2 linked regions of the Homo sapiens genome follow. The protein of the gene in region 1 interacts with the protein of each later gene in a pairwise test. Each region holds a gene or a part of one and is shown in the gene's direction. Other genes may lie near its edges.

Region 1 (2,543 bases):
CGTTTATACGTGACAAAAATATATTTCTTTTTCTTTCTTTTTTTTTTTTTTTTTTTTGAGACAGTTTCCCTCTTGTTGCCCAGACTGGAGTATAATGGCACGATCTTGGTTCACCACAACCTCCGCCTCCCAGGTTCAAGTGATTCTCCTGCCTCAGCCTCCCGAGTAGCTGGGATTACAGGCATGTGCCACCACGCCTGGGCTAATTTTGTATTTTAGTAGAGATGGGGTTTCTCCATGTTGGTCAGGCTAGTTGCGAACTCCCAACCTCAGGTCATCTGCCCGCCTCAGCCTCCCAAAGTACTGGGATTACAGGTGTGAGCCACTGTGCCCGGCCGACAAAAATATATTTCAATAGAAAATAGTATCAGTAAAATGCTAGCACAACTAACTATCTGTCTAAAGACAATAAAAGTTCAACCCCTATATCATGCAAAAAGCACTTTCCAGATATATTAAAATGTTTTCAAGCTATAAAGTAAAACAGTAGAAGTCTTAGAAGAAAATCTAAGAGACTAGAAATCTAGAGATAGGGTAGACCTTCTTAGCTAATTTTTAAAAATGAAGCTATATTTAAGATATATATTTCAAGTAAATAATAAGTGTGTGTGTGTGTACACACAGATGCTTCTCAGCTTACAATGGGGTTATGTCCCAATAAGCCCATCAGAAGTCAAAAATGTAAGTCGAAAATGCATTTAATACCCTGATAAATCCATCACAAAGCTGAAAAATTATAAGTAAAACTGTAAGTCACAGACTGTATATATAAATTTAAAATTTGGCAAAATATATTGCAAAGTCAAATTTGGGAAAGTATAGCACAGATAAAAGATTAAACTATTCACGGCCAGGCACGGTGGATCATGCCTGTAATCCCAACACTTTGGGAGGCCGAGGCGGGTGGATCACCTGAGGTCAGGAGTTTGAGACTAGCCTGGCCAACGTGGAGAAACCCCATCTCTACTAAAAATACAAAATTAGCTGGGTGTGGTGGTGCATGCCTGTAATCCTAGCTACTCAGGAGGCTGAGGCAGGAGAATTGCTTGAACCTAGGAGGCGAAAGTTGCAGTGAGCCAAGATGGTGCCATTGCACTCCAGCCTGGGCAACAAGAGTGATACTCCGTTTAAAAAAAAAAAAAAAAAAAAAGGTAAACTATTCAAAAGATAAATGGTTGAAAGATATATAACTAGGCAGTTTAGATAAGAACAAATCCAAATGGCCCATCAACATAAAAAGATGCTCTAACTGTAGCCAGAGAAATACGAATCAAAGTACCAACGAGCCCAACACATGGACGAAAACTTCAGAGAACACTACAGTCCCAGAAGAGAGGTAAAGGGCAAGAAATGAATCATTTATTGCTGATGGAAATGTGCATTGTAGAGCTGATATCTGTTCAAATTAAATATGCATATTTGACCTCAATTCTACTACTGATATCTACACCAAGGAAATGAAAGGAAATGCACAAGATTATTTATTGCCACACTCTAGAAGGAAAAACAGAGTGCATGCCCATCAATAGAATAGTTGAATAAATTATGATTCATGCATAATATAGAACATTATGCATTCATTTAAAAATGAGTTTGATGTTTAAAGGTTGACTTAGAAGGATTCCCGTGCAAAGTGAACAAAACAGAATACCGAGAAGGATGTATGTGAGGGATGCATGTGGGCACCTGGGAAAGGAGATGAAGAAAGCAACTGAAGGATATTTACCAAGTTGTTAATATGCATTACCTGACATGGTGATATAGGAGTAGGGGTGAGGAAGTGAAGGATCTGAGTAGGTGGAAAAAGAAAAGCAAAAGTACAACAGCGGGAGAAAAAACAGGATGACTCGTCTAGAAGAGACATTGTCAGTAACAAGTAAATAACATTTTCTGGAATATAAAAAAAAAAGCTATATGAATGTCATCATTATATGTAAAATATGAATGTAAAATACATGGGAGGATAATATGCATTAATAAAAATTATGGTGCTGGCAACAGTATCATGGATGACTGTATTATTATTTCCTTTTCCTTAACATTGTTATGCTATCTTTGAGTAAAATTAATTTTAGAAATTTAAAAATAATTGTCATTATACTTAAACCTTATATTTAAACAAGAAAATAATTCAAAAAACCAAAGCAGTTTAACTTTCTTTCATTACCTGAAATTCAGCCTTTTTACACAGCTAGAGAACTTCAGTTGATCTTGTGAAGGACAAAGAAGCAGAAAGACTTCTCTAGGATGTTGGGTTTCCTAAAAGTTAAACTCAATCATTTAAAGTTGCAAATAGGTAGGCAGGATGGATTCTGAAGCACAGATTTCCCAAATGCCCTTTTTGCAGCAGATTCAGCTTCTAAACAAGTTTCAAGGGCAATGTTCATGATAGACGCAACTTTTTCTTAACATTATATTGCATTGTCAATATGTATTCCATCATTTTATGCTTTTCAATGCACTTCCATTTATAAAAGCCGCATAGTTTGCTCTTATATGCCAATATGTTTGTAGCTCAAAATATACTTGAAATATTTTAAGTC
Region 2 (7,040 bases), on another chromosome or scaffold:
GTCCCTCCCAGCCCCTGGATAAGCCTCTGTTTCCTCATCTCTAGAATGGGGATATTTTGTTAGAGCTCTCAGATGACGCTCTTCCCACAGGGCAGCTACCATTACTCAGCTAACAACGGACCTGAAGGTGTCAGTATTTAAATCATTCCCGCACCTCAAATTCTACTTTAAAAATTTTTTCACTCTTTTAGAGACAGGGTCTCACTCTGTCACCCAGGCTGCCATGCAGAGGTATGATCATAGCTCACAGCAGCCTTGACCTCCTGGGCTCAAGCGATCTTCTCACCTCAGTTCCCCAGGTAGCTGGGACCACCACACCTGGCTAATTTTGTATTTTTTGTAGAGATGGGGTTTTGCCATGTTGCCCAGGCTGGTCTCAAACTCCTGGGCTCAAGCAATTTGCCCACCTCAGCCTCCCAAAATGCTGGGATGACAGGCGTAAGCTACTATGCCTGGCCCTGGCTAATTTTTAAGTTTTGTAAACAATTTTTTTGTAGAGCTGGGGGATTTCACTTTGTTGCCCAGGCTGGTCTCAAACTCTTGGCTTCAAGTGATGCTCCCACCTTGGCCTCCCAAAGTGCCGGGATGACTGATGTGAGCCACCACACCTGGCCTGAAATTCTACTTTTAAAGCTGATAACCTTTTTCTGCTAGAGATACTCAGTCCTGCCTCTTGCCACAAGCTGCTGAGGGCTCGGGGTTCCATCTGAGCTCCAGGAGATTCGTGTGCTGCCACTGACTGTCTGTCCCTCCTCTGTCCCACCCCAGTATGAGAATGAGTCGGCCCTGAACCTTTATGAGACTTGCAAGGTGCGGACCGTGAAGGCTGGCACGCTGGAGAAGCTGGTGGAGCACCTGGTGCCAGCCTTCCAGGGCAGCGACCTCTCCTACGTCACCATCTTCCTGTGTACCTATAGAGCCTTCACCACCACCCAACAGGTCCTGGACCTGCTGTTCAAAAGGTGAGCATGAGCCCTCCACTGCACAGGGTGCACAGGGGCCCTCGCCCCCACCCCCACCTGGCTGCGGGTCTTGGCAATGCTGATTCACCTCTCTGAGCCTCGCTTTGCTCATATGAAAGAGAAACTGGAGTGCTAAGAGGACCTCATGGGGTTGTCACCATGCCTGGGCGGGATGAGGCGTGGAAAGTGCTCCCTCAACGCCTGGCCCTGTAGGGAATGGGCTGCGGGGCTGTGGTGCTCGTTTTTATGATTTTCCTGTCCCCCATGGGGAAGCTCTCTGCCCCAAGCCTCTCTTGTATGTGGCCTTGGGCGAAGCAGTTTTCCCACTTGTCAAGGAGATTCCGGATTCTATCTGGGGGCTGTTGGAGGGACCCAAGGGGCGCTCAGATAGCTGGGAAGGAGCTGGTTGGGACTTATTCATTGAACAAATATATATGAAGCACCTACTGTGTGCTGGCCCTTTTCTAGGCATTTAATATAATTTGATGAAAAAAAGCAAAAAAAAAAATCCCTGCCCTCCTGGGCCTCCGTTCTAGTCGGAGAGTCAGACAGTAACACTAGACGTCATAAGCAGGTACGGTAGATGTGACGCCCTCACGGCCTCCTCTAGATACGGCTGCATCCTCCCCTATTCCGACGAGGATGGTGGACCCCAGGACCAACTTAAAAAGTGAGTGAGCTTTGAGCCAAGAGGAAGGGACCCTGTCCCCACCGAACAGTGGGAGAGTACATGGGGCTGGGGCCGGAGCCGGGGCTGGCTGGGCAGAACCCTGGCTCCCACACCTCTTGTGGTTCCTGCTAGAGGGCTGGGGTCTGGGGGCTTCGCCTGCAGGAAGAAAGACGACCGAGAGCTGTGGAGGGGTCCTGGGGTGGCTGGGGCTCGGGGCAGCCCCCGGCGGGAACTCATCCCACCATAGCCTCATCCCAGCTGGCCTTGGCTCAGTGGGCCCTGATCTAGGGGCCCCTGGCAAGAGGTGGGGTGAGCCTCTGCTCTCACATTGCCTCACCCCTCAATAGTGAGTGCTCAGTGGGCAGGCTGCACCCCACCCTCTGGGAGAACAGGATTAGTGGGAAGATGAGACCCACACACAGCTCTGAGAGAGTAAGGCAGCTCACCAGCACTGAGCTACAAGTTGAGGAGCCGCCAGGGACCTGCAGATGCCCGGCAGGAGGACCGATCCCTCATGGAGTTTACATTCCAGCGAGGAGGGGGTGCTGGGAGACATGCAGAGCTGTGGGCGGGGCTTCCTTGGAGGAGGGGAGAGGTGTTCGCCACTGACCAGGGGCCTCCTTGGTTCTTTTAGCTGGACAGCCAAGGGGGCTTGGGCCGGGGCAGGTGGCCTTCAGATGGACAGGGGCCGGCTCAGGAGCCCAGCCTGGCTCAGGGGAGCCCAGGCCTCTGACTCTGCTGCCACCCACCTGTCCCCAGTGCCATCTCCTCCATCCTGGGCACCTGGCTGGACCAGTACTCGGAGGATTTCTGTCAACCTCCGGACTTTCCCTGCCTCAAGCAGCTGGTGGCCTACGTGCAGCTCAACATGCCAGGCTCAGACCTGGAGCGCCGTGCCCACCTTCTCCTGGCCCAGCTGGAGCACTCGGAACCCATTGAGGCAGAGCCTGAGGGTGAGGAGGACTGGGGTGGGTGCCAGAGGGTGAATGAGGAGGGGTCGGTGCTGGGCCACACGAAGAGGAGGCTCCAGGGTCTGGTGCTGGGTCAGGGGCCCAGATGAGCCTCAGACCACACAGGCAGGGACCACAGGCAGGAGAGTGGCCTGGTACACGTTTTGTGGGTTCGGGGAGAGAGGCTTCTCTGGAAGCCGGGGCTGTTCTGTGTCTTTGGAAAGGCACAGGAAAGGCTGGCATGTTGTTGAACTTTTCTCCTCTTGCAGCTCTGTCACCAGTGCCAGCTCTAAAACCAACTCCAGAGCTCGAGCTAGCTCTAACACCAGCTCGAGCACCCAGCCCAGTGCCGGCTCCAGCCCCGGAGCCAGAGCCAGCTCCAACACCAGCTCCAGGTTCAGAGCTAGAAGTAGCTCCAGCACCAGCTCCGGAGCTCCAGCAGGCTCCAGAGCCAGCTGTGGGACTAGAATCGGCTCCAGCGCCAGCTCTGGAACTAGAGCCAGCTCCAGAACAGGATCCAGCTCCCTCACAAACTCTAGAGCTGGAGCCAGCTCCAGCACCAGTTCCATCATTACAGCCTTCCTGGCCTTCACCTGTGGTTGCAGAGAACGGGCTGAGTGAGGAGAAGCCTCACCTCTTGGTGTTCCCTCCAGATCTGGTGGCAGAGCAGTTTACACTGATGGATGCGGTGAGCAGCTCAGCTTGGCAGGGCAGGGGTGGGCCTGCCTTCTGGCAGCATCTGCTGTCCCAGACCTACCATTTGCTGATCCAGAGCTGATGTTCTGGTCAAATCCCAGCTCTGCTGCTACACACCAAGTAACCAGGTCGTTCCTTAACCCCAAGTCCTCAGTTTACCTCTGGACAGTAGAGATGAGGTCACCCCTATCCTCCAGAGTGACTGTGCAGATTCTAGATGGAACAGACAGGAAGCTCAGCAGGCCTGGCCTGTGGGAGCGGAGGGTGCTCACCAAGGTGCATCCATGGGTCACCCCCATCTGTTCAGGAGGCTCACCAGCCTCAGCACTCATTAGGCACTTGGTGTGTCCTGGAGCCTATGGCAGACACTGGACAAAGCCCTTAGTTGTAGCGCCCACAGCAGATGTGCGTCTGGATGGGGAGCAGACTGAGGCGGGGGGATGGGGGGTGGGCAGGCGTGAGCCGCCTGTTGGAGCTGGGGCTTGGTGAGGCTGCGCGAGGCGGTGCTCCTCTTCTTCCCACCAGCGTTCTGTCCCGGGTCACTTGTGTGCTGGGCACCCTGCATGGACACGGGATAAAACCCAGAGATCCCCACAAGGCTCAAGCTGCATCCTCAGCTTCCCCAGCACCAGCCCAGACTGCTGGGGCAGGACCAGGTGACATTTAGCCTCCTCCCCAGGAACTGTTCAAGAAGGTGGTGCCCTACCACTGCCTGGGCTCCATCTGGTCCCAGCGGGACAAGAAGGGCAAGGAGCACCTGGCGCCCACCATCCGCGCCACTGTCACCCAGTTCAACAGTGTGGCCAACTGTGTCATCACCACCTGCCTCGGGAACCGAAGCACGAAAGCCCCAGACAGGGCCAGGGTGGTGGAGCACTGGATCGAGGTGGCCAGGGTATGCCAGAGGAGGGGCCTGGGCCCCCACTTTGGCTTCATCTGTTCTCAGGTTGTGGTCTGCAGTCCAAGGCCCTGTACAGGCCCCAGTCTACCCTTCCCAGGGGCATGCTGGCCTTGACTCTCCCAGCCCACTGCCTGGATGCTCACGTCTTCCTTACACTCTTTCCTTGGGTTGAGCTAAAATCCTCCTGTCACCCCCGGGTCGCAGGCGTGCCCTCTGGGGACTCCCTGGGTGTCTGTCTCATTAGGAGGGGAGGCTTGGCCAAGGGGGACTGAGGCCAGGCAAGCTGGGAGCTCCAGCCCCACCTCATGCCTCCTGCTCTTCCCGCCCCAGGAGTGCCGGATCCTCAAGAACTTCTCGTCACTGTATGCCATCCTCTCTGCCCTGCAGAGCAACTCCATCCACCGTCTGAAGAAGACGTGGGAAGACGTTTCCAGGTGGGCATGCCTCTGTAGGAGCTCCTGGTGCACCAGGGACCTCCCACAGGGCTGGCATCACCCCCTTAGTGAGCCCATGGGAGGCCACAAACCCTGAGGGCAGGGACCCTTCACTGACCTGAGTTGGCAGCAGCTCTGCCTCAGAGCTCGGCTTCCTAAGCTGTCAGATGGTGGGTTGAGCCACATCAGAGATTTTCAGGTATTCGTGTTGTAGCCACAGAACCCTCATCCAATTGAAATCAAAACCTTTGTGCCAGGCGCAATGGCTAACGCCTGTAATCCCAGCTACTTGGGAGGCTGAGGCAGGAGAATTTCTTGGACCCAGGAGGTAGAGGTTGCAATGAGTCGACATCTGGCCACTGCACTCCAGCCTGGGTGACTGAAACTGTCTCCAAAAAAAGAAAAAAACCCCTTTGGAAATAGCTGCTCAGTGGAAACGGGAATGGGGTCCTGTTGCACCAACATGAAGGCCCCCTCCCCAGACCTGCAGAGCGTTAGTGCTCTGGGGTACCCTGTGTGCTGCGTTCAGGCAGTCTGGGGTCTTTCAGCTCTAAAATAAAACGGATTTGCACTCACACCCCTCCCTACCATTCCCAGCTTTCTCTTTCCTTCTTTGCCCTTCTGACAGGGACAGTTTCCGGATCTTTCAGAAGCTGTCAGAGATCTTCTCAGATGAGAACAACTACTCATTGAGCCGGGAGCTGCTCATCAAGGTGGAGTGGCGGCAGGCTGGGGCGGGGGCTGGGGCGGGGGCTGGGGCGGGGGCTGGGGCGGGGGCTGGGGCTGGGGCGGGGGCTGGGGCGGGGGCTGGGGCGGGGGCTGGGGCGGCGGGCGGTGGCATTCGCTTCTTGCTGGGAAAGTTCCTTTCCCGTGTGCGTGAAGGGGGAAGAGGGATCTGTTTGGCCCCTGGGTGTTTGAGGGACAGGGCCCCAGTTAATTGGACACAGTAAGGGTAGCAGTGGAGGTTCCAGGAGGAGTAGATGGGCATCAGGACCAGCAGGCCTCTGGCTTCCTCGCCGGTCCCTCCTGCTGGGTGGGAAGGGGATGCGGCTCCTGCCCCCACACCGGCCCAGTCTGTCCCCGGGAGGCCAGGCTCCTGACGCTACCTCTGTCTGCTCTACACACCCAAGGAGAGGGCAGCCTGCCTACCCCAGGGACAGGAGCTGCAGGGGATGCCAGGGGCCAGGTGGCCAGACCTGGGAGGCAGATTTGGAGGCCCCATGTGGCTTCCCTACCCTGCCCCGAGAAGAGACACTGACCAGAGAACCCTGTAGAATTCTTCCCATGGCACCCCATTAGCTGTGGCGGATACCCCAGATGACTGAGGAGAACTTTCAGTGACTAATGGATTCACGAGGCCTCAGAGGGAGTCAAGTGTCACTGCCTGGTGCCCCTGGCATACCCGGTCAGTGAAATGGCATCTAGGGCCCCCCTCCTGCGTGGACACACACAGAGTTCCCTACAGGGGAGCATCGCAGGGGGCTCCTGGGACACCTGTCCCTCTCCCTCCGTGGCACAGCTCCACTGGGGGCCCTGGCATGCACGAGAAGCCCAGAGGACGGTACCCTGATCAGTGACCAAACGGGTAAAGGCAGATGGGGCAGAGCCTCTGGCTAGGACAGAAGAGCCTGTTCTGAGTCCCTGGGGGGCCCAGGGCAAGTCACTGCCCATCTCAGGGCCATAGTTTCCTCATCTAGAAAATGGAGGAATGCCAGCCCTGGGGTGCTGACCTTATGGAAGGTTCAAGGGAGAAAGGAGTGTGCAGCCATAACAGGACTGTAGCGCAGAGTCTCTGAGGCCCTGCGAGGCAGGTGGAGTTTTTTTATTTGTTTAGAGAAGGAGTCTCGCTCTGTCTCCCAGGCTGGAGTGCAATGGCGTGATCTCGGCTCACTGCAATCCCCACCTCCTGGGTTCAAGGGATTCTCCTGCCTCAGCTTCCCAAGTAGCTGGGATTATAGGTGTGCACCACCAACCCAGGTAATTTTTGTATTTTTTAGTAGAGATGGGGTTTCACTGTGTTGGCCAGGCTGGTCTTAAACTCCTGACCTCAAGTGATCCACCTGCCTTGGCCTTCCAAAATGCTGGGATTACAGGCGTGAGCCACCGCACCATGCAGCAGGCGGAGTTCTCATCCGCACTTTCCAGAGGGGGAGGCAGGCTCAGGAAGGCCAGGCCACCGGCCCAGGACCCCACACTAGTGAGTATTGATACAGGGTCAGCCCTGGAACCCGACCACACTGGCAGCACCCCAGGTCAGGGTGCCTGAGGGCTGAGGGGATAGGGCCTTGCTGACCCTGTCCTCTACCCTGGCAGGAGGGCACCTCCAAGTTTGCCACCCTGGAGATGAACCCCAAGAGAGCCCAGAAACGGCCGAAGGAGACGGTGAGAGTGCCCAAGGCCGCGGAGGGGCAGGGGGCTGGCCTGGGG

Evidence for each region. The genes of interacting proteins can lie anywhere in the genome.
Region 2: the proteins of RAP1B (region 1) and RALGDS interact in binary tests that used the Homo sapiens proteins (3 or more experiments, as listed by UniProt).

The regions. Positions count from the first base shown.
Region 1 is NC_000012.12:68,669,899-68,672,441, forward strand, and holds the end of RAP1B (ras-related protein Rap-1b isoform 1 precursor), read left to right. Parts: 3' UTR 1-2,003; downstream 2,004-2,543. UniProt on the Homo sapiens protein: GTP-binding protein that possesses intrinsic GTPase activity. Contributes to the polarizing activity of KRIT1 and CDH5 in the establishment and maintenance of correct endothelial cell polarity and vascular lumen.
Region 2 is NC_000009.12:133,104,218-133,111,257, reverse strand, and holds part of RALGDS (ral guanine nucleotide dissociation stimulator), read left to right. Parts: intron 1-768; coding exon 769-962; intron 963-1,536; coding exon 1,537-1,632; intron 1,633-2,391; coding exon 2,392-2,585; intron 2,586-2,851; coding exon 2,852-3,270; intron 3,271-3,957; coding exon 3,958-4,173; intron 4,174-4,509; coding exon 4,510-4,613; intron 4,614-5,241; coding exon 5,242-5,326; intron 5,327-6,926; coding exon 6,927-6,995; intron 6,996-7,040. UniProt on the Homo sapiens protein: Functions as a guanine nucleotide exchange factor (GEF) activating either RalA or RalB GTPases and plays an important role in intracellular transport. Interacts and acts as an effector molecule for R-Ras, H-Ras, K-Ras, and Rap.